Linked DNA regions of Homo sapiens: region 2 is linked to region 1. Evidence: fine-mapped expression QTL. A gene starts in region 1. The other region holds a variant in brackets. All regions are shown on one strand. Distances are from middle to middle.

Region 1 (16,151 bases):
CATATAGTAGCTGCTAAAAGAATTTAGTCCTGCTTTACTGTATAGAAGGTTGTGTCTACTTTGACAATCTCAGTTTGGTGAGATTCTTGACTTCTATTCATCAAAAAGCAACACTAGGATGTATCTGCAGAGACAAACCATGGAATTAAATTAATTCATTTGAACAAAAGTAAACCAATTTGAATCCAATAGAACATTTTCTTTTCAAAGAATAAATTTGATCAAGTTAAAATTTGGGTTCTAATCTTTAAGACTGGAGCTCAGTAGTTAATGATTTATTTCACTCACATAAGATTTTTCCCATTGTTAGTAATTTGTAGAAAACCTGAAAAGCAAAAATAATCAATACTTTTACTAAAGAGTGATTCTGAATGACATATTGCAATTGGAAATTTTAAAGTATTATCAATGTTGCTACTTTTCCTAGAAAAGACTCCTAACTCATTTTAATGATGCCATACTATGTCACTTCACTGGTTCTCAAAGGTACTTTGAGATGCATGTAATCAAGCTTTACTGCTATTAATTACTTGACACAGGTATTAATTAAACTTCAACTGGGATTTTAACATAGTTGAATTGGTTGCTCTTTTCTTCACATCTATGATTTTGCTATTATTTTTATGAAATATATTCTAATTTAGTAGTTAATTATTTTTCTTAAAAATAGTGGCAATTTATGTAAAAATTTATTATATAACAAATTGAGTTAGTTATATTAACATAAACAGTACAATTATATTAACATGAAGTCAAATAATATTATACCTGAGATGAAATTTTTTGATAAATTATTTTAAAAACGTATTTGTCATATTCTTATTTTACATCATCATAAATAACATATGGTGAAAAATAAAGGATGGGGACAGTAACGCTAATTAATCTCATGGCATTTAAATATGCTTTTGGTTGACTTAAATGATTTGTGCTAAAATTTTTATCTTGATTAATCCAAAACACTTGATAAACAACCATATGTATATTTATAGTGTATTTTTTATAAATATAGTATTATTTATATAGTATATTATATATTATTTATACTATATTATATATAATATAATATATATAATATATAATAGTATATTATACTATTATAATATTATACTATATATTATATATTATATAGTATAATATAGTATAATACTATATTTTATAAATATAGTGTTATTTATATATATAAATACCTTTTTATTTCATTTCTAAAATTATAGTAAGTATACTTTGTCTTAGAGGAGAGAACCCAGAAATGCCAGGCATTATTTTCAGGCATTTATTACTAGGTATTATTTTCATTTTGACACATGGGCATTTAGTCTTCCCTGACAACTTACACAAAGGGAACAAAATAAATGATCTAGATAAAGAACAATTGTGGAACTGATCGCACACTGGTGACTTTTAATAATTCAAACTTCTCAAAGTAGATAACATCTATTATGTCAGAGTGGATTATGAATATTCTGATGACTTTTAAAATGTATTAAGGGTAATGTTAATTTTTAAACCACATTGTTTCTATACCTATAATTAAGATGCAAAAGCTGGTCTCATATCCCAGCTAAGAAAAAAATCTGCTGACATTTAAGTTGAAAATGATTAGGCACACTATGTACAATTTGTATTCAATAATTATTAAATTCCACAGCATTCAAATGACAAAATAGCAAAGCCTCACTCTATTTTAAAACGGTGATATAGGTGATATAAGAATCTTTCCAAGAATATACCACTTTGTTTCACCATGCTGCTTTCAAGCTCGACAATGGCAATCATCATAGGTTAGATAAAATCTTCAAAGAACTCTAGTCTGACACACTAAAGAGCAGCACAAGCAGGAAAATATGGCCTAAATACATGGAGAAAAATCCCATTACTTTTATACTTCAGAACATTCTAACATTTTTATACCATAATCATAAACTACCAACAAAACTACAAGTTACAAATATTTATTCTTGCTTTCTTTTTCAAGGAAGCCACTGAAATGATGAATAGATGAGGAATTGGAAATTATCTACCTTTCACAGTAATAAGAGGAGAAGAAAAACTTTCTACAAAATCCAGTACTTTGCTTCTTCCCCTGCTAAAGTGCTAACAAGAGATACAAAGACACCATCGTAGGTCAGTATGGGTGGCTCCTCTAGCCCTCCTACCCACAAAGGTATGCCATGCTCAAATTTAGGAGACAGAAATAAACTTTATGGCCTTTATTGTTTCACACATAAGTGTGGAAATATTTCTTAACATAAAGCCAAATTATATATATATAACAAAGCAAATACTAATTCCTCTGCCTTTGCTGAGTCATTCACTTAGCACCATACCAGGCCTATAGAATGGACTTAAGACAAAATTACTGATTCACAAGTAAGAAGATACACAAGAATATGACCTAGAAAAATGTGGAGCTTAATAAACAATAAACTTTAGAGATGATTGTAGTGATCTAATTTTCTTAATAGAATCTTCATTTATGTCTTTGAGAAGTGTATGGAGTCAGAAGTTCAGCAGCACATTTCATTGTTGTTATCATAACTTAAACTTAACATGCAAAGGGGAGTCAAATCAGCTATCTCAACTGCTGCCCTTGGCTTGCGTGGTCAAGTTGGCGAAGCAGAAATCATCAGTGGCTGGCTTATGTGATTATGTCCACCCCATTCCCCTCCTACCAATCCCCTTTCTGGGAGATTAAACTGATCTCATCTCTGACCCTAGTTCAATTTAACACAAAAGTATGTTAGACAACACCTAAGGTACACTTTAACAATTAAGCAAAAAATTGTTCATTTGGTTTTTTTTTTTTTTTTTGGTTGGTGGGGATTCGAGATAGGGTCTGGCTCTGTCACCCAGCCTGGAGTGCAGTGGCACAACCATAGCTTGCTGCAGCCTCAACCTCCCAGGTTTAAGCAGTCTTCCTGCCCCAGCCTCACTCTCTCGAGTAGCTGGGACTACAGGTTTGTGCCACCATGCCTAGCAAATTTTTTAATTTTTTTGTAGAGACTGGGTCTCACTATGTTGCTCAGCCTGTTCTTGAACTCCTGGACACAGGTGATCCTCCCTAAGCAAAAAAACTTTTTAAACTCTTTGCAGATAAATGATGCTACGTCTAATATTATTGCTGATCATATTGCTTTTTATCAATATTTTGCAATACTTGAATTTTTTACAATTAAAGCAATGAAATTTAAAGCCATTACTTTTGGTTCTAATATTTATATGTTATTTCCACATCATTATTTTTATGTGAACTTTATATCTTTAAAAACACCATAAATAAAATATTAAAGAAAGTTCTGATTAATAAGACCCTAAGGGCAAGGTTTTCGAGGGATTTCACATTGAAGATGTTGAAGAAAAAGACTCATCTCTAAAATGAGCTAGGAATAAATTCAAGTCGAAGATAAGATAAATCTAATGATTCTTCATAAAGACAAAATAAATCTTCAAGAATTGGTTTATTATATCACTTAGTGGAAGATATTCAGTAAAGGTGAAAAGCATTTCTAAGTGGGATAAGAATTAGTAAATTGGGCTTTTTAAACAATAGTTTGTTTTTCAACATCTCTACTTCCAAGTATAAAAGAAAACAAACAAACTGCAAACTAAAGCCTTAAACTAATTTTCCCTGGCACCAATAACTCCAGAAGTATTTGCAGTTTCTTCTTACAGATGCACATCAAAAGTAAAGACATAAAAACACAAATACTAACATACGTTGCATTAAACTGGTCTAATTAGGAATTAGATGACAGCTTTCATTGGTTTCCCATTGCCTACTCATCCCATACATGTGGATATAAACAATAATCTTTCCTTAAGTCAACTTACTGAGCTCATGATTTTAAAAAATTACGTTAATTTTCACAGCATTCAGGAGAAAAAAATAGACTTTTGAAAAAACTCACTGAAGAAAAAATATTAAAATAAGTTGTTTTTATATAATTCTTCAAGTGTTAAAGTACTGTGTGAGCCACTTGGACACACTCACGCAGAAGGCTGTTCAGTAAAAATCGCTTCTATTTGAGATGGAGGGGAATTCTAGAAGCTACAGCTACTTGCACTAAGAGTATTGAAGCAATTTTGCCTTACGGTGACAAGAAACTTCAGAAGTAAGCCAGGTTCACAGGTGAAGACCATGGTGTGCACTTAAAAGAAAACAAGTAGCCTGTTCCAGCCAGGAGGCAGAGTGGCAGCATTTTCTGGGCATCATGGTTTTTATTCCAGTGGATGTGAAGATCCCAAGGAAAGCTAACTACAGAGATCTAGAATGGTACTGACAGGTAGGAATGCTGCTGAGAACCAATTCCAAGAAGAAAGGTCAAGGTAATGTGCAGAGGGAAAAAATATTATTGGCTACAAATGACTCTGAGAATCAAAAATAGCCATAATAATTTAGTTGCCTTATTTTGTGTTTGTAGGCAAAGAAAATCTAAATTAATAAGAACACTGCTCTCAAGCCTTTTACCCAGAATATGATACCTTCGGATTGCTTGACTTGTTTCAGTTAATTTGCTTTCTTCAGCATTTCTAATACAGTCAAGCATGAATGTAACTGAACCACTACATACGAACATAAGAGCTCCTGTTCCCAGATAGTCAGGAAATCCATTGGTCATGGCAACCCCAGAGAGTTGCAGATGAGGAAATTGAGGTCCTAAGTAGTTATATGAGTTGAATATATTTAAAACTAACAGATTATGAATTCAAGGCATGAAACATTAATATATTATTATTATAATATACATGTTATGCCAAATATAAAATATGCATAATGCCATACAGGACATAGAAATCATAAAGTAGTGAAAACAGATAAATGCACATAAGTGTATCCAATATATAAAGATATTTCCTGTAGATTATCACAGAAAGCAAATGTTCACACAGGTGATTTTCCCACTTGATAACTGATCAATTCCATTCATTAAAAGTATATTTCAATTCATTTCTATTTAAGCATAAATTAAGACCCTTCTAAACATTTATAGGTTCTTGGTGTTGAAAAGAATCTCAAAACTCAAAACTCGTCAAACCTCCCTTCATATGTGATGTATGAGTTTGGAAAGCAGAAACAATGCTCTATGGCTATTTATTATTATCTTATTCCCTGGACCAGTAAGGGACGCTCACATAAAAATAAGAAACACTTACATGAGAACATAAGAGAATCTCCAATGGTTTCCCTATTAAGAAACCATTCTATAAAATGAGTCCATTTTGGCCGGGCGCGGTGGCTCACGCCTGTAATCCCAGCACTTTGGGAGGCCGAGGCGGGCGGATCACGAGGTCAGGAGATCGAGACCATCCCGGCTAACACGGTGAAACCCCGTCTCTACTAAAAATACAAAAAAATTAGCCGGGCGTGGTGGCAGGCGCCTGTAGTCCCAGCTACTTGGAAGGCTGAGGCAGGAGAATGGCGTGAACCCGGGAGGCGGAGCTTGCAGTGAGCCGAGATCGCGCCACTGCACTCCAGCCTGGGGGACAGAGCGAGACTCCGTCTCAAAAAAAAAAAAAAAAAAAAATGAGTACATTTTTTGAAAGACATTCCCAGTCTAAGGTTTCACTGGATTCAGGAAGCAATGAGATCAGGGCCAATGACAGTCTCCATTTGCTTCCCAACCCACCAGACCCCAAGTATCCATTGTCAAGACTATGTTTTATCCACTTTGTATTCAGTCACTACTAGAATAATCTCCTTTACCCTCCCCAACTCACCAGGCCCACTACTGTCTATGCCTGGCACTTGGAGGGGTGGTAGGTGGATGGATGGATGGATGGATGGATGGGTGAATAAGTACATAAAAACTTTCCTCTTTTGTTGCAATATAATTCATATTTCATTCAAATACCAGGATAAAGTCTTTATCTCCTCTTCAAGGAGATGTTGTCCTTTTTCCTATCAAAATTTACCAAATGTCTGTAGCTGGCCAGTTTCTAATCATAATAAAAACCAAAAGATATCATAATTTGGGTAGCATATCTCAGGATCTGGGAATTAAAAAAAAATCTATATCATGATGTCACTGAGAACATTAGTATCTTCTAAGTGTTGTCTTCTACATTAGCCCTGTATATTCCCATCAGAATGAAAGGGATTAGGATTAGAGCTAGGGCTAGAGTTGATATATTACCCTGGAATGTTTCAAAAGTTTTTTTTAAAAAAAAGAATCTGAAGTTTAGATTTGAGAATATCATTAAGGGAAGTCTTATAATTTACCTTCAAACAAAATGCAATTTTATTGCTAAAGTGAGGCATGAGTTATTTTACAGCCAAAGAGAAGGTACAGTATTAAACACATCATTTGTTTATTTTGAAAATACACCCTGGACCTGTGGATGTACATACTGTAATTGAAGTCATCTCAACAACAATTACTGGCCAGTTTCACACTCACTTAGCGGGGGAGGTGTGTTTCAATTAGTGGTTTCTTGCCAGTACTTCCTCATACTTTTTAGGCAACTCTTTGGACATTAGGGGGTTGTAGAGAAGTAGAAAGGAAAACTCATTACCCAGCCCTCAGAGAGTTCAGAAATTAAGTATAAGTTTGTACTACTCACGGCTCTGCCTGTAGGCTTCTGTCCTCAGCCACGTAGTTAGAAGGAATATAGCCTTGTAGTTGCTGACTGGAGCCATCTCGTCTTTTCTCCAAGTGTCTGGCAAACCACCAGCCCTCATGCAAAGTGTCCAGAACTTGAAGTTTGTCACCTGCTCGGAAGCTCAAGTCCTCAGCAGTCCGAGCCTGGTAATCAAACAAAGCCACAAAGTAGTGGCCATGCCTCTGTGACTGGGGAGAGCAAAGGGCCCCTGGATTTTCAATCACGGTTGACTTGTCTGCCTCCGTGGACAAACAGGGGAGATAGGGTTCTAGGTACTCCCAGAGCCTCTGACAGATGTTGCTCATTGTGCCTTGGTGGGGAGAAGAGGAGCAGGGCTTCTCCCTCTCCCCTTAGTCTCTGCGATCCACCTTATCTTCCTTCACCAGGCAACTTTGAAGTCAGCACCAACTCACCATACTTCGGAGAGTATGCAAAGTCCCGTTTCAGATCAGTCCAGCAGCTGGGTTGCAGCAAGTCCTACCTGGAGAGACTTACCGGCTTGCTTTCTGTGGCTGGAGGTGCTACCCCGAGGCAAAACTGAGCAGGAGCTGGGCAGCTGCTCACTAGGAAGGTGTCTTTTCTTCTTATCTGCTTAAGAATCCCACAACAAAAATAAAATAAAATTAAAAGGGCTTTATTTAGACAAATATCTGAGAACAGAATGGTGCCATCTTGCCTTTTGTCCCAATAAAAAGTTAGCAAGAGGAAGCTACTAACCCCTGGTAAAACCTCCACGTCTTGCTTTCGCCAGGAGCTCTCCCCCTGTTTCAAGTCTGTTCCTGTCTTTCGACCAGTCCGGATCTGGACGGCTCTCTCCTTTTTGCTAATGAATAACCAACCAGCAGAGGCTGTTGCCTTTAACATTCTGAGCTATGAACAGACTGTAATAATTTCCCCTTACTTCCTGGTTTCTTTCTGTCTGTGATCTAAATGGTATTCTGACCTCTTTACCCCTCCCATCTCCCACACCCAAGATAGACCAGATCCTTTACCAAACTGTTAAAGCAGCCGCTAAAATCTATATTCCTTTTGTTTCATCCTGGAGAAACAGGCTAGCCCAGGTAGCTTTTTGTCTTGTTATGTTCCCAGCACTGAAATTCACGGCAGAGATTTTTTTCCCTGACAAATAGGAGTAGAATTGTTTTGCCACCACTAGGGGAAATTTAAAAAGGCAAATTAAAGTATTTAGGTATTTCTTGTCAGACACAGAGCAATTGGAAAAGAACCATCAAGTCACTCCCTTTTCTCATTACCAAGAATAGATTTTAATAGCTTCAAAGAATAGTCACAGTCTGGAAAAGTAAGAAAGCAGCTGACTAAAATGCTGAGAACCCAAAATGTTGCTTTTTCCCACAGACATTTAATTTCCTATCCTTCAAGTACTATTTGGGAAACACACACACACACACACACACACACACACACACGCTACACACCAACTAGGTGACCAGTAGAGAAAAAAAGAGTAGAACAGAAAAAGAGCTCTTTGCACACTGCTGTGGGGGCTCTTTCTGCTAAACTTTGACCTCCAGATCTATGCTAGTTCTTACTAACTTGGCAAGAACTCAGGAACTAATGAGACTGACATCAGGACAGCCATCTCTAGACAGGCAGTGGTTTTTGCTTGACCTTCCCTAGTTCGGAGCAGCTGTCTCACAAATATGTGCCCTGGCAAAAACAGCCGGGCAATGAGTCTGGCAGATCAACGTACGGTCATTTATACTAGTAGACAGCATTGCAAACTTGTTTATGAAGTGTCACTGATCTCTCTATAAGACTTTTTTTTTATTTCTTTCTTAAAAACAATCTTTCTAAATGTTGTGAGACCCTTGAACCTGGCTAACCTATTCCTAGTACAAGCTCATAACTTCTGTTCTTTTTCAAATTGCAAGGCATTTAGTAATCAGAATAATCAAACTCAAGAAAAAGGAAGAAAGAAAGGAAGAAAGAAAGAAAGAAGAAAGAAAAGAAAGAAAAAGAAAGAAAAGAAAGAAAGAAGGAAAGAAAGAAAGAAAGAAAAGAAAAGAAAAGAAAAAGAAAATCAGAGAACCATGGCATCAGCCCAACCTGCTATTACTTTGTGCAAAAATCAGTCCATAGCAGTGGACAGATCAATTGGTTAAAATAAAATCTTGTGTTATGCTCCCAAGTTTCTCCAATTGTCTTTGGAGTCAGAGTACAAATAACAAGTTGACAGAAGTATAAAAGCCAAAAGCTGAGCCAAATTTTTGTTGTTGCTGTTGTTGTTTTGTTTTATAATGATATGAGACCTAAAATAGACTGTATATGTAATTTCATATTATATACAAAACAGAAAATATATAATACCAAATGACCATAAAGGATATTTTGTTCCAAATACAATAATGGATGTAAAAGCATAGGATTCTATTAATGCCCCAACAGAGGCACAGATGCTGAAGTCTTCCCTGAGACATCTACATGATCTAAAAATGAAAAAAAAAAAAAGAAAAGAAAAGAAAGAAAGATTTGGAAGCAACCTGAGAGATGTATTCAAACCCAATTTGTAAGTGGGGTTTTAGATTTTTGAATTGTCGGGGTTCTAAATTCAGATATACCTTTACTATAGTTATGACAAGGCATTCTGGAAAAAGACAAAGCAGCAGACCTGCACACCACAGTCATTGAGCAAGTGAGTGAAATTCAAAAAGCGGCCAACCATCCAAAGATGTCAGGTGAGCAATGGCCTGAGAACGCAGAGCTGAGGGGTGGAAAGAGAGAAGGTTTCTTTGTGTCCATAGTACCAGAATTCTCCAGTCACTCAATCTCCAAGTCTTGCAGTTATCTTTCGTTTGCTCCCTGGTTTCTTTGAGCTAATCAATCACTGAATTCTGCTCAGTCTTCCTTTTCATTTATTCCACAAACTTTTTTTAAAGCTCCTTCTGAGCGACAGCTGGGCACCAGACAGAAAACAGAATATTCTTTCCTAGATTATTCCAGAGGCCTCCTAACTGATCTCCCTTCCTCCAGCTTATTCCCATCTCTGGCTCATCTTGCACACCAAGATGAGTGGTGTTCATAATAGTTTATAGAGTAGTTTTTATAATAGTAACAATGACTGAGGTGATAAGTCATTCCTAGTCATTACTAGTAAGAGTAGCTATCTGTTTGGAAAGCTTTCTATGTGCCAGGCACTGTACTAAGAATGTTAGAAATAACATCCAGGAATTCTACTCCAGGGTATGTATCCAAAAGATTTGAAATCAGGAAGTCTGAGAGATATTGAACTCCTATGTTTATTGCAGCACTATTCAAAACAGTCAAGTTATGGAATCAATCTGAGTGTTCATCAATTGATGAATGGACAAGAAAATATGGTATATATACACATTAGAAACCTATTCAGCCTCAAAGAAGCAGGGAATCTTGTCATTTGTGACAACATGAATGAACCTGAAGGACTTTATGCTAATGAAATAAACCAGACATGGAGGCAAATACTGCATGTTCTGACTTATATGTGGAAGCTAAAAAAAAAAAAAATCCAACACATAGAAGCAGAGAGCAGAATGGTGGTTACCGGAAGCTGGGGAATCAGGGGAATGGGGAGATGTTGGTTGAAGGGTACAATGTTTCAGTTAGACAGGAGGAATAAATGATAAGTATTCCATTCGAGACTGTGGATATGTTAATTAGCTTGAGTCAATAATTCTACACTGTATACATGTATCACAGCATTACTTTGTACCCCATAAAATATACAATAATAATTTGTCAATATCAGGTAAAAATAAGAGAATGTTACAAATAACATATCATTTAATTCTCACCAAATAAAAAACAATGCCTACAAAGAAGGTAGTATTTTTTTTTAAAAAAAGTATTTTAGAGAAGAAACTGAGGCTGAAAGGCTAGGTAATTTGTCCAAGGTCACACGGCCACCAAGTGGCTAACCCTGAGTAACACTCTGTTCTCAATCTGACTCCAGAGCCTGAGAGTATAAATCCTCAGTTTTGCTGACTCTAAAAATATCTGATATTATTCTTCTATGTAAAATTCTGGAAGAACCTCCAACACATTTGGAATAAACCTTAGTTCTTCAGCATGATACACAAGGCCCTGCTAACTTCTCCAATCATGGTTCATCACTCCTGCACACAGGTCCTGTGACATAGTTCGCCAAATGACCAGCAGTTCCCTGCTGCACCTCTGCATCCTCCTCTACCTGCTCCCCTGATGACTTCCTTGTCATTTTTCTAGGTTGGGTTCAGGCGATGCATGAATATAGATGAAAGGCCTCTATGCACCCCTAAATTCTGGCAGAAACTTCTACTTGGTTTGTGGTTGAGCCCCTCTTTGGTTTTCCAAGGAGAACTGAATTCCCTTCTCTGAACCTTTAGTGTCTTGTACAATGTCCATTATGTAAATAATAAATATTTGATGAATTAAATAATTAACACAGAAATAAAGAAAAAGAAACAGTGTGGGAGAGACAGAGATAAAAATGGGGAGGAAATGGAAGCAGGAAGAAACAATTGGGGAGAGATAAACATTTATGTGAATATTCATGATTGAGAGTGAAAGTTCTATAGTGTGAAAAGAGCCAGGAGCACAGAGGAGGGAATACATTCTGTCTATTGCTTCTCAGTCCCTTCCTTTCCTCTCTTATTGCTCCCTGAATGTTAGATTCCTTTGCCAGCCTCCTAACCCAGTTTTCCTGCCTGGAGTCAATTTTCTTCTCATCCTTATAGCAAATTGCCACCACATTAATCTTAATCACTCTCCTACACAATAACCTTCAACAGATCCTCATTGCTTGGAAGATATGACTTGGAATTCAAGGCTAAGGAATTTGTACTTTATCCAAACTTTATCAGATGTACCCTTTCAACACCCCCTCCATTATGGCTTTATGTTAGCCAGACTGGTTTATTAGATCTCCCATATGCCTCATCTGTTCCCACATCTGATCCTGTATCCTTTGCCATTCTTTTACTCAGTATTCCTTCCACTGCTAACTTCCCCTCCCAGTAAGTCTACTTACTCCTGCCTGCATTTCAAGATCTGAATAAAAATCCCTCACCTCCTTAGACCTTCCTTAACCATTCCAGCCAAAAATCACTTCTGTCTTCCTTGAATTTTCTAGCTCCCACAATCCCCACTCCTAATATACACAATATTAAATGAATTGAACCATGCTCCTATACCTGGTATGCTGAATACTGCTACAGAAAATCCAACAGCTATTCAGTTTTATACCAGGACGAATTAATGATCCCCAAACCCTGCTAGGCCTCAGCACTAGGGCTTAGAGAGAGCTATCATAAAGGAAAATTGGACTCTGTCTCCCCAACTCACACAGTAACATATTCCCCCACACATAGAAAAGAGGATTATGGCCTAGGGAGCCATAAAAAATAAAAACAAAACTCTCCACCACATAGTCTTCCTCCAAACTCTTGCTGTGAACCCATATAATCTGCAAATGTGCACTTCTTCTGCATACCTGTTGACCTTTGCTCAATCCCCTTCTTTTGCCTGATGTGATGACCCCAACTTCTCTCCCTTTTCCTACATTAACCATCTTCCAACTTATTTGCCAGATAAATATGGGTTCTTGTCTATCTTTTAAGAATCGAATAAAATGTCTCTGTCTTTATTAATTCTTTCCCAACTACTTCATTAGACAGAATTGACCACTCTCTCATTTGTGCCCTCCCAGCATAACCTATACCCATTTTTGTCATTTATTCCATGTGTGATTCTGATCTCTTTATGTACTTAATGTAGTGTTCTTTTGTTCCTATATTGACACAATGCCTAACACTTAATGGACACTCAATAAATATATGTTGAGTGAAATCTAATGAATGTCATTCTCCTAGAACACAGTTTATTATATCTTATGTAGTCTAATATCTGCTTATATGTAATTGTGTTGTTTCCCCAAGCATATTGCCCTGTCTTTGAAGACAAGTTTATGTCTTATATTTCTCTGTATCACAAGGAAAATCTAGAATCTGTCCTATGCATAGGAAGTCTCCCTACTTTCACTCTTGTTCGATTGCAATTGTGATGTTTAATATTGAGTGTCAACTTGATTGGATTGAAGGATGCAAAGTATTGATCCTGGGTGTGTCTATGAGGGTGTTGCCAAAGGAGATCAACATTTGAATCAGTGGGCTGGGGAAGGCAGACCCACCCTTAATCTGTTCGGCATCACCTAATCGGCTGCCAGCAAATAAAAAGCAGGCAGAAAAACATGAAAAAGCGAGACTGGCCTAGCCTCCCAGCCTACATCTTTCTCCTGTGCTGGATGCTTCCTGCCTCGAACATCAGACTCCAGATTCTTCAGTTTTGAGACTCGGACTGGCTCTCCTTGTTCCTCAAGCTTGCAGGCAGCCTATTGTGGGAACTTGTGATCATGTAAGTTAATACTTAATAAACTCCCCTTTATATATATATATGTGTGTGTGTGTGTGTATGTGTGTGTGTATCCTATTAGTTCTGTCCCTCTAGAGAACCCTGACTAATACAGCAACTTATTCTCCAAATGGCAGCCAAAATAATCTTTGTATAATATCAATCAGACCTGTGTTTTTCAATAGCTTCCCATTGCACTTATGAATTCCAAATTCCTTATCTTCAGAAATAAGGCTCTGCTGGGGCTGTCTCCAGCCTGTCCCTTCCCTCCATCTGGCACCACTCTTCTGGCTCTCTATGGGCCAGCCACAGTGGCCACCTTTCTGTTCACCACGGCAACAGCCAAGCCCTTTTTTCTGACCATGGATTCTTTCTCACTATTCTTCTAATCAACAACATTCTTGTCCAGATTCTTCATTTGGATGGATCTTTCTGTTCTCAACCTAAATAATGTATCATTAAAAAGGTTACCCCTAACCACTCTGTCTAAAGTAGCAAAACTACCCAACCTAGCTTCTCTCTTAGCATGTCTCATGGGTTGAATTGTGTCCTCCAAAAGGATATGTTGAAATCCTAACCCTCAGCACTTCAGAACGTGACCTTATTTGGAAATACGGTCTTTACAGAGGTAATCAAGTTAAAATGAATTCATCAGGGTGAGCCCTAATCCAGTATGACAGGTGTCCTCATAAAAAGGGAAAATTTGGACACAGACAGGCACAGAAACAACACCAAGCAAAGATACACAGAGAGAAGCCCAGCCATGTGAACAGAGTAATGCATCTGCAGGCCAAGGAATACCAGCAAACACCAGCAGCTAAAAGAGGCTAGCTATAGAGCATGGCACTGCTGACAACTTGATTTCAGACTTCTAGCCTTCAGAACTATGGAAGAATAGAGTGCTGTTGCTTTAGGCCACTCAGTCTTTGGTACTTTATTACAGCAGCCCAAAGGAACTATTACAGCATGTCACTATTTTTATTTTTATTTTCATTTATTTATTTATTTATTTATTTTTTGCAGCACTCATCACACTCTGTATTTACGTCTTCTATTTATTTGCCTACTGAGTACAGTCTCCTCTACTAGAAAATGTTCCAGTGAGATGGCGGCTTCATCTACCCTCTTCACTGCTATGTCCCTAGAGCTTAACCTGTTATAGGCAATCAACCAATAATCATTACATAATGGTAAAAATAACAAAAAACATTTTTATTGATAAAATAATATCACTACAAATGCAGTAGATACAAAGACACTGCTATTTCAGTGGAAAATTCCTATTTCTAGAAGGAAAGTTGGGGCCACTTATACTAATTGCAAGAGTCTTGTTGTTGTTGTCATTGTTTTCTATAATAGAACAAAGTGAAATATCTCTAAAGATTATTTTATACCAAAGGCTGAATGATAATGTCTGGCTACTACTGCTGAGAGGCTGATGATGGGATTTATGTTATTCTGAGGTTTAATGGAAACTTTTTCAGGCTTCAGCTGTCTTCCATGATGCCATTAAATAAGCAGACCGCAAACAATTTCATCTTATCCCTTGGACTTGAGTCTTGGCATCAGCTTAATCTTTTATTCTCTTCCAGACAAAATTTAGATACTTCCTTTGGCTATAATACAGCTTGGTACCTTGGGATTCTCCATCTCTTTCATCTTAACCTTCACCAATTCCTCTTTTAGTCATCTCTTGTAGGACCAAACACTAGCCTGACACTAGGGGAAATGACAAGAATCCGTTAAAATGAAAGGAAATGAAATATGGAGCTCTTTAGTTATAATCAGAGGAAAACAATGATGATGATCATGATGATGATGAAAAGATGGCCTTTAATATTTGCAGCAGATGGTAACAACTTAATTCTAAATTTATTCCAGTTTTCTTGGCCAAAGAGTATAATCCTCAGACTGGAAAAAGAAGACCAGACATATGTGAGTGAGTCTTGGAATTTAAAGAAAAGCAATGACTATTAGAAGCTAATATGGGCTTAAAAAGAAAAAAAAAAGATGCCGAATTAACCTCAATTTCCTTTTTCATATAGAATTACTATTGTAAATAAAAAATTGTTTAATTACTTCGGAACTTAGAAGACATCAAAACCAAATGCTGTATTTTACAACTGGTTCTATCTAACCAGCTGAAACCGTTGAAGAACATGAATTTTGAGGTGTGTTGGCATGCCATGTCCTTAATATCCATAACTGTAGCAGTTTTCCTGACCAATGATGACGGACTACATTAAACATCCAGCCAACATGGGATGCTGGACTCATTCTCTCCTAAACAGAAGGTGTGTTTTCAATACTTACAGAGCATAATCATGAAACCCTATTTCTATATTTGAAAATCCATGAATTTTACCCTCAATAAACTATAGCTACTCAGTGAATTTCTTTACTGATCTGAGTTCCCTTACTTGCAAGTATATCAATTCAGGTTTAAAAAAAAAAAAACTTTTTAAAGCTTTTTGTTTCATTCTTTGGCACTGTCAAAGACACAAAATAGGCACAGTATATCTAGATTTCAGTAAGATACTGAAAAAAATGATCTAGCAATATCCGCAAATGGGATTAGAGAACTTGCTTTCCAAAAAGACTGAATATTCTTGTATATGCAATCTCCCAGAAGCAGCTGATAAGCCTTTCCTAAAATATAGTTATCCATGGTTTACCCAGGTGATTTGTTCTTGCCTATTAAGCAGATAATTCATCAATCAAGATTCACATCTACCTAGCAGCAACATTATTTTAGCAATGCCACAGAGCCTCTCTAATCTGTTAGACACTATCAAATTTCCCCAAAATAACAGAAAATAGAAGCACCTGAAGTCTCTGAGGACTTTTTTCTCAAGAACTTCTCTTTTGATATTTCACCAAGTTTGGGATACAAAATTTGTGGCTGGGCTGACTGAACATGAGGATATGTAGTATGACGGCATAGTTCTTACTGTTCATCTTCAAGTTTCTTGGCTAATTCCAAACTCTATGTGCAAAGTAAGATGAACAGAGTCATGCCTCTCTTGCAGTTAACTCCTATGAAAATATTTATATTATTCAATATTACTGTGAAAAAAATATTTTTAAAGCTTTCATTTGGCCAGGCATGGTGGCTCACACCTGCAATCCCAATACTTGAGGGGGCTGAGTTGGGAAGATCACTT
Region 2 (16,151 bases), 110 kb after region 1:
TAATTCACATGCTTTATCCTAATTATTTGAGAATTTACACATGTGATTATTCATTTTCTACCCATTCCTTTGTTCTTTATTGCCTCTGAGTTAAAGTATACCATGCATTATAGAATGTCTTAAATGTTGCAGACTTTTTTCACCATTATATCTGTCGGGTATTCTGGATGTCATGTGAATAATTTGCAAACTTGCTGAATCTGTATGATGTAGCTATAGCCTGTAATTTTCTTTATGCTCCCTGCAGCACACACAACACTGCTGTCATCTTTTTCCCCTTTTCTGTTAAATTCAAGGGATATATGTGCAGGTTTGTTAACGTGGGTATATTGCATAATTGTGAGTTTTGGGTTTCTAGTGAACCCATTACCCAAATAGTGAACACTGTACCAAGTAAGTAACTTTTCAACATGTGCTTTCCCCCAGCCCCCACCTTTTGGAGTCCCCAATATCTATTATTTCCATCTTTATGTCCATGTGTACTTCACTTATATGTGAGAACATGCGATATTTGTTTTTTTGTTTCTGAGTTGTTTCACTTAAGATCATGGCCTCCAGCTCTATCCATGTTGTTGCAAAGGACACAATTTCATTACTTTTTATGGCCGTGTAGTATTCCACAGTGTATACATACCACATTTTTTTTATTCCAGTCAACTTTTGATGGACACTTAGGTCAATTCCATGACTTTGCTATTGTGAATAGTGCTCAATAAACATATAAGTACAGGTATCTTTTTGATAAAATGATTTATTTTCCTTTATGTATATACATAGTGGTGGGGTTGCTGGATCAAAGGGTAGTTCTACTTTTAGTTATTTGAGAAATGCCCATAATGTTTTCCAAAAGTGTTTAACTAATTTACATTTCCACCAACAGTGTATATACATTTCCTTTTCTCCACATCCTCTCCAACATCTGTTATCTATTGGCTTTTTTCATAATAGCTATTCTGACTGGTATGAGATGGCATCTCACTGTGGTTTTAATTTGCATTTCTCTGATGATTAGTGATGTTGAGCATTTTCCATATGTTTGTTGGTCACTTGTATGTCTTATTTTGAGAAGTGTCTGTTCATATCCGTTTGTCTACTTTTTAATGGAATTTTTGTGGTTTTTTTTCTTTTTGATTTGTTTAACTTCTTTACAGATTCTGGATATTAGTCCTTCTGTCAGATGCATAGTTTGCAAATATTTTCTCTCATTCTGTATATTGTCTATTTGCTGTGTTATTTCTTGTCCTGTGCAGAAAAACTCTTTAGTTTAATTAAGTCCCATTTGTCTACTTTTGGTTTTGTTGCATTTGTTGTTGAGGTCTTCGTCATAAATTCTTTGCCTAGGCCAGTGTCCAGAAGAGTTTCCCCTAGATTTTCTTCTAGTATAATATTTATAGTTTGAGGTCTTACATTGAAGCCTTTAATCTATCTTCAGTTAATTTTTGTATATGGTAAGAAATAGGGGTCCACCAGCCATCCCATTACTGGGTATATACCCAAAGGACTATAAATCATGCTGCTATAAAGACACATGCACACGTATGTTTATTGCGGTATTATTCACAATAGCAAAGACTTGGAACCAACCCAGATGTCCAACAATGATAGACTGGATTAAGAAAATGTGGCACATATACACCATGGAATACTATGCAGCCATAAAAAATGATGAGTTCATGTCCTTTGTAGGGACATGGATGAAATTGGAAATCATCATTCTCAGTAAACTATCGTAAGAACAAAAAACCAAACACCGCATGTTCTCACTCATAGGTGGGAATTGAACAATGAGAACACATGGACACAGGAAGGGGAACATCACAATCTGGGGACTGTTGTGGGGTGGGGGGAGGGGGGAGGGATAGCATTGGGAGATATACCTAATGCTAGATGACGAGTTAGTGGGTACAGTGCACCAGCATGGCACATGTATACATATGTAACTAACCTGCACATTGTGCACATGTACCCTAAAACTTAAAGTATAATAATAATAAAAAATAATAATAAAGATGCATTGATATAACAATGTAGATAAAAATAAAATTATATAAAGCAGATAAAAAAAAAGAAATAGGGGTCCAGTTTTATTCTTCTGTATATAGATAGCCAGCTTTCCCAGCAGTATTTATTGAGTAGGGTATCCTTTCCCCATTGTTTATTTTTGTTGACTTTGTTGAAGATCAGGTGTGTGGCTTTATTTCTGGGTTCTCTATTCTGCTCCATTGATCTATGTGTCTATTTTTGTACCAGTAGCATGCTGTTTTGGTTACATTAGACTTGTAGTGTAGTTTGAAGTCAGGTTATGTAATGCTTGCAAGTTTATTCTTTTTGCTTAGGATTGCTTTGGCTATTTAGGCTCTTATGGGTTCCATATGAATTTTATAATTGTTTTTTCTAATTCTGTGAAATATAACATTGGTAATTTGATGGGAAGTTGCATTGACTTTCTAGATTGCTTTGGGCAGTATAGTCATTTTAATGACATTGATTCTTCCTGCCCATGAGCAAGGGATGTTTTTCCATCTGTTTGTGTCATCTACAGTTTCATTGTTTTATAATTCTCCTTTGTATTTCACCATCTTAAATGTATTCCTAGATAGTTTATGTTTTTGTATGGCTATTGTAAATGGGATTTTCACCATCTTAAATGTATTCCTAGATAGTCTATGTTTTTTTATGGCTATTGTAAATGAGATTGAGTTTTTTATTTGGTTTTCTGCTTGACCATTGTTGGTGTATAGAAATGCAACTGATTATGGTGTGTTAATTTTGTATCCTGAGACTTTAGCAAAGTTATTGATTAGGTCCAGGAGTCTTTTGGAGGAATCATTTGGGTTTTTTAAATGTAAGATTATGTCCTCAGTGAATAGAGATAATTTGACTTCCACTTTTCCGATTTGGATGCCTTTAATTTCTTTCTCCTGCCTGATTGCTCTGGCTAGAACTTCCATTACTATGTTGAATAGGAGTGGTGAAAGTGCACATCCTTGTCTTGGTCCAGTTCTTAAAGGAAATGCTTTCAATTTTTCCCTGTAAGTATGATGTTGGCTGTGGCTTTGTCAAATATGGTTCTTAGTATTTTCAGTTATGTTCCTTTAATGCCTAGTTTATTTATAATTTTTATCATGAAGAGATGTTGGATTTTATTGCATGTTTTTTCTGCATATTGAGATGATCATGTGATTTTTGTTTTTAATTCTGTTTATGTGGTGAATCACATTTATTGATTTGCATATGTTGAACCATCCTTGTGTTCCCAGAATAAAACCCACTTGATCGTGATGAATTATCTTTTTGATGTGCTGTTGGATTCAGTTTGCTAGTATTTTGTTGAGGACTTTTGCATCTACGTTCATCAGGGATATTGGCCCATAGTTTTCTGTTTTTGTGTTATCCTTGCTGGATCTTGTTATTAGCATGATACTAGTTTCATAGAATGAGTTTAGGAGGAATTCCTCCTCCTCAATTTAAAAAATATGTATTTTTAGGCCGGGCACAGTGGCTCAGAGCGCCTGTAATCCCAGCACTTTGGGAGGCCAAGGCGGGCAGATCACGAGGTCAGGAGATCGAGACCATCCTAGCTAACATGGTGAAACCCCGTCTCTACTAAATATACAAAAAATTAGCCAGGCGTGGCGGCAGGCACTTATAGTCCCAGCTACTCAGGAAGCTGAGGCAGGAGAATGGCGTGAACCCGGGAGGTGGAGCTTGCAGTGAGCCGAGATCGTGCCACTGCACTCCAGCCTGGGAGACACAGCGAGACTCCGTCTCAAAAAAAAAAAAAAAATATATATATATATATATATATTAGTAATATTGATACCAGCTCTTCTTTGTATATATGGTGCAATTTGGCTGTGAATTCCCCTGGTCCTGGGTTTTTTTTTGTTGTTGTTTGTTTGTTTTGGTTGGTAGATCTTTTATTACTGATTCAATTTTATAATTTGTTGTTATTGGTCTGTTCAGGATTTTAATTTCCCCCTGGTTCAATCTGGGAGGTTGTATGTTTCTGGAAATTTATTTGTTTCCTCTAAGTTTTCTAGTTTGTATGCATAGAGATGTTCATAGTAGTTTCTGATGATGTTTCGTATTTCTGTGGTATCAATTTTAATGTTATCTTTATCATTTCTGATTGTGCTTATTTGAGTCCTCTTTTTTTCTTGTTTAATCTAGTTAGTAGTCTATCAATTTTTGTTTATCTTCTTAAACAACCAACTTTTGGCTTTGTTGATCCCTTGTGTGATATTTTAGTCTCAATTGTATTTAGTTCTGCTCTGATCTTTATTTCTTTACTTCTGCTAGTTTTGGGTTTGGTTCGTTCTTGTTTTTCTAGTTTGTTAGGTACATCATTTGGTTGCGAATTTGAGATCTATCTTTTTGATTTATGAATTTAGTACTATGAACTTTCCTCTTAACACTGCTTTTGCTGTATCCTAGATTTGATATGTTACATGTCTATATTCATTTCCAATTCTTTTTTATTTCGGCCTCAATTTTGTTAAAGTCATTCAAGAGCAAGTTGTTTGGTTTCCATTTACGTATGTGGTTTTGAGAGTTCCTTTCAGCATTCATTTCTAATTTTATTCTGCTATATTCTGAGAGGATACCTGATATTATTTTGATTTTTAAAAATCTATTGAAATGTGCTTTGTGACCAAGCATATTGTCAATTTTAAAGAAAGTTCCATGCACAGATGAGAAAAATGTATATTCTTTGGTTGTTGGGTGGAATGTTCTTTAGGTGTCTATCCATTTGGCAGAGCCCGTTTTAAGTCAAGTTTCTTTGATAGTTTTCTCCTTCAGTGATCTGTTTGGTGTTTTCTCTGGGATGTCGAAGTTTCCCACTATTATTGTATGGCTTTTTATTTTATTTTCTTAGGTGTAGTAGTACTTTTATAAATCTGGGTGCTCTGGTGTTGGGTAATGTATATATTTAGGATAGTTAAATCTTCTTATTGAGTTGAAGTCTTTATCATGTATCATACCCTTCTTTGTCTTTTTTTACTCTTGTTGGTTTAAAGTCTATTTTATCTGACATAAGAATAGCAACCCCTGGTCTTTTTTGTTCCCCATTTGCATGATATATCTTTCTCCACCCCTTTACTTTGAGCTTGTGTATGTCTTTATACATTATGTGGGTCTCTTTTAGGCAGCAGATGGTTGAATCTTGTTTTTCTTACCCAATTTGCTAATCTATCTCTTTCAAGTATTTATGTTCAAGGTTAATATGCATATGTGAGGTTTTGTTCCTTGCCTAATATTGTTAGCTAGTTGCTTTGTAGCCTCAATTATGTAATTATTTTATAGGATGTGTGAACTTTGTACTTACGTGTGCTTTTGTGGTAGCAAGTATCATCTTTCTGTTTCCTTTTAGCATTTTTGGTGTACTGGTCTAGTGGTGACAAATTTCCTTAGCATTTGTTTGTTTGGGAAATACTTTATTTCTGCTTCATTTATGAAGCTTAGTTTAAAAAGATACACGCTTTGGGAGGCCGAGGCAGGCAGATCATAAGGTCAGGAGATCGAGACCATCCTGGCTAACATGGTGAAACCCCGTCTCTACTAAAAAAATAAATAAATAAAATACAAAAAATTAGCGGACATGGTGGTGGGTGCCTGTGGTCCCAGCTACTCGGGAGGCTGGGGCAGGAGAATGGCGTGAACCTGGGAGGCGGAGCTTGCAGTGAGCTGAGATTGCACCACTGCGCTTCAGTCTAGGCGACAGAGCGAGACTCCGTCTCAGAAAAAAAAAAAAAAAAAAAATTATTGGCTGGCATTATTTTTCTTTAAGAAGTCTAAAACTAGATCCCTGTCTCTTCTGGCTTGTCAGTTTCTGCTAAGAAATCTGCTGTTAGTCTGATAGGATTTCCTTTATAGGTGATTTGATCCTTTTTTCTAGTGGCGTTTAAGATTTTTTCTTTAGCATTGACCTTGGATAGTCTGATAACTATATACCTTGGTGATGTTCACCTTATATCATATCTCACTGGTGTTCTGGATTTCTTCCACATGGATTTCTATATCTCTAACAAGATCAGGGAAATTTTCCTGAATTCTTTCTACCAATATGTTTTCCAAATTGCTTACTTTTTCTTCTTCTTTCTCAGGAATACCTATAAATTATAGATTTGGTGACTTCACATAGTCCTGTATTTTTAAAAGGATTTGTTCATTTTTTAAAATTCTCTTTTCTATTTTTGTCTGACTGGGTTAATTCGAAAAATGCCTCTCCTACATCCACAACAGTGGACTGAGGGAGCAGGAGATGACCCCCCTCTACATCTGTTACCAACCACCAGTACCACCCCATTCAGTGATCAGTTTGTACCTGCATTTCCTTTGTCCCAAGGGGGTTCTTAGTGGGCCGCACTTCCCCCTCTTCTAGGGGCAGCCTGTGCTTAGGGCTGAATGTCTGGAAATCCCACAGCTCCCCAGGGACCTGCTGGTCCCCTGTGGTTGTCAAGTCAGAGCAGGTTCTGGGCTATGTTTGCAGGGTACTGGTGATTGCAACAACTTGGGCTGAGATTCCCCATGCAGGGTAGTAGCCCACAATGAATGCACAACCAGTATGGTGTCTGTCCTCTCAGCTCAGGCTTGAGGGGAGTGAGGGGATACCTGCACAAACTAGCCACTCTGTGCTCTGTCCCCAGGAAGATCCTAAATCCGCACTGACAGCATTGCCTGGGGTCATGAAGGTAGAAAGGCTCCCTGACAATTTGGCAGTCAGCAGCTTATTGCAGGGGTGAAGGGAGAAGAGAAGCACCCCAACCTACCCTTCAGGCGGGATTCAGAGGTTCTCGGGAGTCAATCTCTGCGAGACTCTTGCTGCTTTCCTTTTCTGCAACCCCACATCAACCAGTGGGGTCTCCAACAGATCCTGGCTATCTTCCCTAAGCTTTCCATTCAGATCATGACCATTCATCTATGTCTTTGATCTTCTCTCTGAGGATAACTGACATCCAAAATCCCTAGTCAGCCATCCAGATTCCTCCTAACCAACAATTTTGATACATGGTGGTTGGATATTCAGTTCTAATTAAAAACATAAAGGAATGGATCAACCAATCTTCAACAAAGGTGCTAAGAAATCACAATGGAAGAAGGATTTTGTCTTCTGTAAATGGTATTGGGAATAGTGGATATTTGACTAGTAATTGTGATGAATTGCTAGAGGCTGAGTGTTGGGCCATCAGAGAGTGAGAAACTCCTGGCATCGATCTCCATTTACCCAGTTTCCCAGATATTTCCCTTGAGGTTTTCACTGCTGACATCCTTTTCTACATGCTGATAAAAAACACTCTTAAAACCAAGTCAGTAGTGTATTTCAAAAGTTAATTCAGTTATTTATCTAAATCCATGAGAAATTTCTACTAAAGTTTCAGAGACTTTTCATCTTTTATCTAGTAGTTACTTAAATTATGTAAGAGATAAAAATGGTTCCCTGATGTAAACTTCATCACAGTGGTTTCTATTTAAAGACGAAAGGACTGAAATTCTGAAATGTCTGGAATCTGACCTTGAAATGAGAATAATTTTTTGTTATTCAGAATTGAGCCAAAGAATTGAGCCAAGGAAGTATCTTGCCTTCCTTTCTTGTCTTTATTAATTGTTTTGGGGAGCCTACTCTGTACAGAGTTGCATATTAGGCCTACTATAGGACTTATAAAGATGGTTTATAAATTTTTGCCCCCAAGAAAATTAAATCACACTTAAAACTATTCAGAGCATGTGATATCCGTAGAATTATCTTTTATCACTGATGATTTGTATATGTTCAACCAAATGCATCAGATATAAAAGTGACATACTTTGTACTTAAAAGGTGTTTGTAAAATTAGTTCAAATAGAAG[A/ATT]TTTTTTTTTTTTTTTTTTTTTTTTTGAGACAGAATCTTGTTCTGTCGCCAGGCTGGAGTGCAGTGGCACAATCTCAGCTCACTGCAACTTCCGCCTCCCAGGTTCCAGCGATTCTCCTGCCTCAGCCTCCCAAGTAATTGGGACTACAGGCATGCGCCACCACTGCCGGCTAATTTTTTGTATTTTTAGTAGATACAGTGTTTCACCGTGTTAGCCAGGATGGTCTCAATCTCCTGGCCTTGTGATCCACTTGCCTTGGCCTCCCAAAGTGCTAGGATTACAGGTGTGAGCCACCGTGCCCAGCCCACATAGAACTTTCTAAGGCAAAAAATATGCATCATTTTGATACCAGTTATTTGTACTGATTTCATTTGATAAAATTGCAATATTTTATAAATTGACAGGCATTTTTTACTTCCTTCTTTTCTTACCCTTCTACCCTTCGTTAGTTTTTAATTTGTTTGAATTGTTCATAGGCAATGTTTCGGCTCAGTGACTTGGGAAGTAGAGCTTTCCTAGAAAAGTCAATGCCCATGACCGTTGTTGGATAATTACGTTGCATAGCCCTCAAGTTGTTATGAATAGATATGATTGTTTAGCTCAAATGAAGTGTAACATTAGAGCTAAACAATCATATCTGTGTATTGGATGTTGATTTTCTGAAAATTTTTTTATTTCACTTTCATTCTTAGAGAATATTTTTAATGGAGGTCTAGGTTAATGGTTATTTTCTGCACTATAGTCTAGTTTCTATTGTTTATGTTGAAAATTCAGTTATCAGTATAATTGTTCTTTAAAGGATAATCTGTTTTGCTGAGATTACTAATTTCTCTTTGTCTTTGGTTTTTCATCTTCGATTTATGATGTACCTGGTGTCTTTTTTTTTTTTTTTTTTTAAATTCTCCTTGGAGGGCTTCTCAGATATTCACTTAACACCATTGGTTTGTTTTGGAAAATTCTGAGCCATTATCTCTAAAAATATTGTTCTGCTCCTTTTCTCTTTTCTCTCTTTCTGGGATTTCAGTTATTCATATTTTAGAAGATATTTTTACTATCATTTATGATCTTTCACCTTCTCTCTTTTCTTGTCTGCCTTTTGTTCTGTTTTCTTTTAATCTCATTTCTAACCATTTTTCTAATTCTCTCTTCAGTTGCGTCTAATCTGCTTATAAACCTATCCATTGAGCTTTTAATTTTGATTACTGTATTTTTCAGTTCTAGAATTCCATTTAGTTCTTTTTCTATTTTTCAATTCTCTGACAAAATCTTGATTTTATTTTAGAGCTTCCTGAATTTATTATTTATAGTTTTCAAGTCTGTCTTTATACCATAGGAGCTTCTGTGGATCTGGTTCAGTCTGTCTTCATGCCATAGGAGCTGCTGTGGATCTGGTTCTGTCGTGTATTTTCCCCCTTTTTTTGATTGTTTGTTTTGTTTTTATATTATATTGTCTCCTTGAGTATCTGATAATTTTTTATTGATACTAGCTATTGTTTTTTTTAATTTTATAGAAAAATGTTGAGGTCTGGATTACTTTCTACAGAGAGTACTTTTCTACAGAGAAAAATGTTGAGGTCTAGGATAACTTTCTACAGGGAGAACTTATGTTTGCTTCTGGCAGGCAGCTAGGGCTCTAGCACTCCTGGATCACCTGTCATCAATTTTTAGAGATTGAGGTGATGTGAAGTTGTGCTTCAGGCCATTGAGAGCTGTATTATATCTGGTTCGTACTTCTTTCTGTAGTATAGCCTTTTGGGTCAACCTGGAGAGCTCATTAACTTCTAATAAACCCTGGAGAGTTTATTAGCCTCTACCTAACCTTGGCAGGCACTGGCCTCCATTTTTTGTCCTCCAAGCCTCTTGAAGATTGCGACTTCTTAGGCTCTCCTTTACTTTTCTTGAAGTTGGTGTTACTGCTAATTCCAGGCAGAAGCCCCAGATTCCAAGCTCAGCTTTCTGGGTTTCTCTTTTCCTCAGCTTCTCAACTTGACCTCTTAAATCTTCATTGACATTTTGGTTCTTCAGTGCTGTTAAGCAGGTATTTTTTAAAGTTTGTTTAACTTTTCTAGTTATCCTCAGTTAGACAATTTGTTCAAATGGCATAGTTCTCCACTGTCAGAAGCAAGAGACCAATTTCCACAACATTTAAAAAATGAAAACATGTTATAGTTTCCAGTTTATGACTGTTACAATATTTTGTGTCTATGCTTACTATATTGCCACTTCTGTAAGTTCAGTAAGCATAGTGATTAGCCAGAATATCATGATAGGTGCCGTAAGTTCTGTATGAAAGACTATATGGTAGGAAAATATATATCTTAACAAGCCTTTTGAGGATTTTAGCTATTCATTTTGCATACTGATCAACTATATGCAGCATTGCATGAGCTCTTTAGGTATGGGGTAGCCTGTAGTACCTGCTATCTGCTAAGCTTTATTTTTTATTGAGAAATTTTAACAAATGGATAAAACATGAGGAATGAAGAGTTCTATTTTGGACCTCTTGGGTTTGAGATACCCATGTGATGTCCTAGAGGAGATGTGTGGACAATTGGACAGACATTTGGAGTTCAGAGGATTATCAATAAAAACCTATTGATTGAAAGTGTGTATAGATGATATTTATGAAAGGAAGAAAAACTCAGATTGAGCAAGTGATAATCCAGCATTTATAGTTCTTAGGGCAGAAGAGGAGTTGAGAAGAAAGGTAGATAAGGAAGAAAGGAAAACAACAGAAATAGGGGAGAGGGGTTTCCTAGAACTAACAAAGAGAATTAGTCACCTGTTGAGCCATTGGGTAATAGAAAGACAGTTAATTGGCCATGGGATTAGCAATATGGAGCCATAAGCGACATTGTCCATAGCTAATCCCTCTTTTCTTCAGTAGGAAGACAAGTTTAGAAGGATAAGGGGAAATTAGGAAGTGGATATGGCCAGTGTCTTTATATATAAACATTCTGTCGGTTTTGCTGTGAAGTGGAGAGACAAAAGGAGTCATAGCTAGGGGATGATATGGAATGAAAGGAGATTATCTTGTGTCCCCACCAGTGATTGGGGGGTGTGACCTGATTAAGAAGATAATTGTGGTGTATATATGTACTTTTTTTTTAATTCAAAAGAAAGGGTTCATAGAGTACAGACTTAAGTTAAACTGAATTCGAAGTCTATTCTGCCACGTAGTTGGTGTGCTTGTAGGCAGATTATCTAGCCACCATTTATTTTTTCCAACAGGGAAAGTACCAGGTTCATAGCCACCATTTTCTCATAGAAATGGTTCCTGTTTAAGGGCTTTTGTGGATATATAACTAAATCAGAAGTGTACGTAAAGTACCTGACTCATAATAAGTAATCAGTGCACCTTAGCTGTTGGGTTTGTTTGTTTTAGTCACTTTTAAATTCTAAATAGGGTATATGTTCAGAAACTATTAAGAACTGTTTGTGGATAAAGCCATGTTTCTTAGCATAGCATACATAGCCCTGGCTGTTGCTGTACCTCCCTACCCCAAAATTCAGCCTTAGCAAACTGCTTGCTTGCTGGTACTAGGAAATACCTCTGAAATCAACTGAAAATACTGCATAGTACCTTCAGTTGATCACCTTAGAAGATCTTGCAGTTCTCACTCCCACCTGCCGTGTAGCCTATCCTCATTATCTGTCAGGGCCAACTTATCTTTCAAACTGCAGCTTAAGGTCACCTCCTCCCTTAAGGCTTTTCCTGACATCTAGCCTGTCAAACCTCATTCTGTATTTGACCTGCCCATTCCTCCTCTGTGGTCTCATTTTATTTAGCCTGTTACCACCCTACCACGCCTCTTCATTGGACTTAATGATTCACACATCTCTCTGTTTTTACTGGCCTGTAATATCCTTAGAAGTCATCTTTTTTTTTTAAATCCCCAACATAGCACTTGATCCATAGTAGGTGTTCCATAAGTGATTGTTGAATAAATGAATATATGTAAGGTTAAATGACCCACTTATATTATTGTCACCACTACCTTTTACATATTTTAATGTTTTAATCACTTAACTTATTTTTTAATTGCCAAGATTATTATTTTACGAAGAATACACATTATAAAATCAAATAAATATGTGGTTTTTGCTTTGACTAGAAAAGCATTATTTTGTGGATTTTGAGACCAGGAATTATAAATAGACACTGTTCTAAAAGGCCATTTGTAATCTATTTGTCAGAAATTTGGAATATACTTTATAAAAAAAGCCAGGCTGTGCAAGTGTTAGTGGTGGTAAAGATGATTATTATCATCGTAATAATAATCAGATTTCAGACTGGTACTTACAAAAGACTTGTTTAAACCATATGTCATATAACTTGAGAGCCTACCTTTTTGGGGGGACTAAGAATAGGGCAATAATGTGGTTTAGGTAGGAAAAGCAGGAAGACAGTGTATTCTATATTTGACTTGGCTGAATTCTCTCTTTGGTATCCCCTATACTTTTCTCTGCTGTTTCTATTCTACTTTTGAATTTAAAGATTATTCCAGAATACTGAGTTTTTACGGTTTTCTCCCATGGTAAGAACAGTGGAGCTGTGTTGAGCAATTGGGGTACAGAGAGAAGCCTTGGTACAACCATTTGCATAAATGTGCAATTTGTAAATTTAGTGTTTTGATATTAAAGAGGTACTTAAACAGTTGTCTTTAAATTTGTTTTCTATATACAGGGAAGTTTAAGTCCGAGAGTGAGAGAGTTTTCTGACCTGCTTTGCTTAGTGGATAGGATTTTATTGATGGATAGCCAGCTGTATGACAGCCGCCACATCTTAAAAGAGAAATTATGTTGTAGAAAGATTAAGAGGAAGGTAGAGAAAACACTCTCACTTCCATCCACACATCTATGGTTTCAGTGTTTTTTCCATCTGTAAGTCAAGATGACTGAAGTAGTTGAGCATTTCCTAACCTGTTGTAAATTTGTAAACCCTTTCCTAAGTGATACAATCTCATGATTTCCTCATAGAAAGATTGAAAATTATTTTTTTCACTTTTACATAGTATATAATAAGTGGTTTTAAGTTTAAGGTTATATTAGATAAGTATATTATTAAAGATTGGATTGTCAAGTTCATTTTAGTATAACCCCTTAGTAACTTTTTTTTTTTTTTTTTTTTTTGAGATAGAGTCTCGCTCTGTTGCCCAGGCTGGAGTGCAGTGCCACAATCTTGGCTCGCTGCAACCTCTACCTCCCGGGTTCAGGCAATTCTCCTGCCTCAGCTTGCTGAGTAGGTAGGACTACAGGCGCACGCCACCACGCCCAGCCAATTTTTCTATTTTGAGTAGAGACAGGGTTTCACCATGTTGGCCAGGATGGTCTCGATCTCCTGACCCCCTGATCCACCCACTTCAGCCTCCCAAAGTGCTGGGATTACAGGTGTGAGCCACCGCGCCAGGCCACACCTTAGTAACATATATACTTTGTAAGGAAATTGTTTATGTTTTCTCTGTATAGCAGATAACATATATTATTTAATTACATAAGAAAAGATTATTTCCTGAGAAATTTTAAAGTATTTATTATATTTCTTTATGTACTCAGGCATCAAAAATAGTCAAAACTCTTTTCACATCTGGATGTTTGGAATTCTTGAAATTTGACCTTTAGGAAAATCTACTCTCCTTGTTTTTATTTGGTTTCCAAATGATGAGGTAAGATAGGATGTTTCAGGATTCTTTTTGCAGGCACTTTTCTACAGTTTCACATTGCAGGTGTGGATAACCAATTAGGATAAAATTATATTTATATCTTGAGATATCTTAATTTTTTTACATAAGAAATTTGATCAGAGGAATACAATTCACAGATATTATTTTGGAGAGAACCTATGGAATTGTCATTTTTATGTTCTTCTATAACTTTTAAAGTTCAAAATTTGTGGTGATCCATTATGGAGATAAATTAAACACAATATACTAAAAATGATAGCTAAAAACATTGTATGTGTCTAAACCACAGCCCCTGGCAGTGTTCATCTAAAGTGTAAACTATAACTGTGTCAGTGGCTACTCCTTACCACTCAACTTGAAATACACATGGAGCTGCTCCACGTTTTATTTTTAAGAGTTGCAAAATTTAAAACTTAGAAAAATATGATTAAAAAATAAATTAGAACATTTACTCTTTAACAATCTGAAGTTGAAATACCTTCTCCCATCTGGGGTGGGAAAACACTGACGGTTCCTTCCAGCTGTGTGATTTTTGGACAGCAGAACAGAATCCTCCAATGGTGTAATGAGAGAGGTAGGCAGCCTGTCAGTCCCTTTAGAGCAGAGAGCTTCATTCACTTCATGTAGAGGGTTCCCGCTTTGAGCAACAGCAACACTAAAGCTGAGCGAGGGCGAGTGTGCTCCTCAGGGTATGAGGAGCTGTGGACTGTGGTAAAAATCAGACCCAGCTCAGAAAATTTCCTTGGGCTCCTCTTTTCCTGCACATATTATTTTTGTAATTTATTTATTTATTTTTTTGGTTGTCTTATACACTTTGTTTTGGAATAATCCCTAAATGTATAGAAAAATGATAAAGACAATATAGAGTGATCCTGAATATCACCCTAATGTTCACATCTTACATTATTATGGTACCTTTGTCACATCTAAGAAACCAACATTGGCACATTCCTATTAACTAACCACAAGACTTCATTTAGCTTCTACCAGTTTTTATACTAATGTCCTTTTCCTGTCCCATAATCCCATTCAGGATACCACATTGCATTTAATCATCACATTCAATTAGTCTTTTCTGGTCTGTGACAATTTCTCACTTGGAGTGCTAGCCACGTATTTTATAAAATGCCCCTCCATTTGGCTTTTGTCTGATGGTTTTCCATGACTAGACTGCAGTTGTGGTTCACTTCACAGAAGTGAAGAACTAGTTTTATCACATCATATGAGGGGTACATGCTGTCAACATGACATCACTGCTAATATTAACCTTGATTACCTGACCAACATAGCATTTGCCATGTTTCTCTACTGTAAAGTTACTCTTATTCCCCTTTGCATACTCCGTTTTTTGAAAGCAAGTCACTAAGTCCAGCCCACTCTCAAGAGTGACGGGTAGGTGTTAAATTCCCCTGCCTGAAGTAGAAAAAAATATACTTATTTGGAAATCTTCCGTAAGAAATATCATAGACATACCATTTTGACCTTACTAATAGGTCTGTTCAGCAGTGTTAATTCTTCCCCTCACTCCTGAAGGAAAAGACGATATGCATGATTAATGAAATAACCAACTTAAATTATGCTCATAACTAGATTAAATGTATTTTTCACCACTGAATATAAAATTTAGAGTGCCAATGTTAAGTGAATAAAATATTTCCTATTCGTGTTTTGTTTCATGATAAAAGTAATGAAAAAGAAAAACTTGTGTGAAGATTAGGTAGAATAGAGAATTCAGGCATTTTCCCTTTACTATTTTCAATAAGATTTTTTAAAGACATCTTCGATTTTTATACAGGTACTTGTTTTCTCTCCTTTCTAGCTCTCATAACTTTTCTGAATTTGTATTTTGCTTTCATCATACTCCATTTTGAAGGACTCAGTCTACAATTCTACCACTTGCTTTGCAATCCACTGGTACCATAAAGCATGGCTAATTCAACCTAATGGGATTATTAATAGTTCCCTACAAACACTACATAAGCCATTTTAGGATAGCAAGGGTTTCTTGTAGTATTAAAGATACATCTAAAAAGTCATGTTTTATAATAAACCATTTTGTCTCCTTTTCTTAAGGATTAGGTTATTGAATGACCATAATAATCATTAGTAAGGGATATAGAATATTTCCATGAACAGGATTATCTACTCATTGTTTTAAAAATTAAGGAATTAGGCTTATTAACTTCAGAAATTTAATTTTCTTGAGATATAATTTATATACAATAAAATATGTATATTTTGTATAGAGTTTGATGCATTCTGACTCATATATACATTTGTATAATTGCCATTCCAATCAGGATACAGAGCATTTCCAGGAAGTTTCTTTGGAGGCAGTCCTCCCCATCTCTACCTCCCACCCAAGAAAACTAATGATCTGATTTCTGACACTATAGGTTAGTTTTAGAAAGGCAGTTATTTTATATTACTCACATTTTTTCTCTCTAGCTACCTTCATGATTTCCCTTTTATATTTCCTTTTTAATAGTTTGACTATGATGTGGTAGATTTTGAAGTAGGCGGAGTATTTATCTCACTGAACTTATTGGATCTGTGTTTGATATCCTTCATTATTTTTTGAAAAATTATTGGTCATTATCTCTTCAAATATTTCTT

Direction of the effects. Alleles are on the strand shown, and positions count from the first base shown. SD is a standard deviation of normalised expression in the study named.
For the expression in prefrontal cortex of the gene that starts at base 7,488 in region 1, A is the high allele of the variant in region 2 and ATT is the other (large effect, 0.88 SD a copy in BrainSeq).

Evidence for each region. PIP is the estimated chance that this variant, and not a neighbour inherited with it, causes the effect.
Region 2: its variant is the best candidate, but not a certain one, in a credible set for the expression of FRK in prefrontal cortex (BrainSeq, PIP 0.52).

Annotation. Positions count from the first base shown.
Region 1 is chr6:116,053,404-116,069,554 of GRCh38, forward strand. FRK (fyn related Src family tyrosine kinase) reads right to left here and starts at 7,488. Exons shown (of 8, transcript NM_002031.3): 1 at 6,565-7,488. The coding sequence starts at 6,908.
Region 2 is chr6:116,159,356-116,175,506 of GRCh38, forward strand. The region is part of intron 6 of NT5DC1 (5'-nucleotidase domain containing 1); the gene reads left to right. It also overlaps a transcript of COL10A1 not described here. Among named protein-coding and RNA genes, the nearest start is that of COL10A1, 41 kb to the left of the region's middle. The variant A/ATT (reference allele first, on the strand shown) is at 7,851.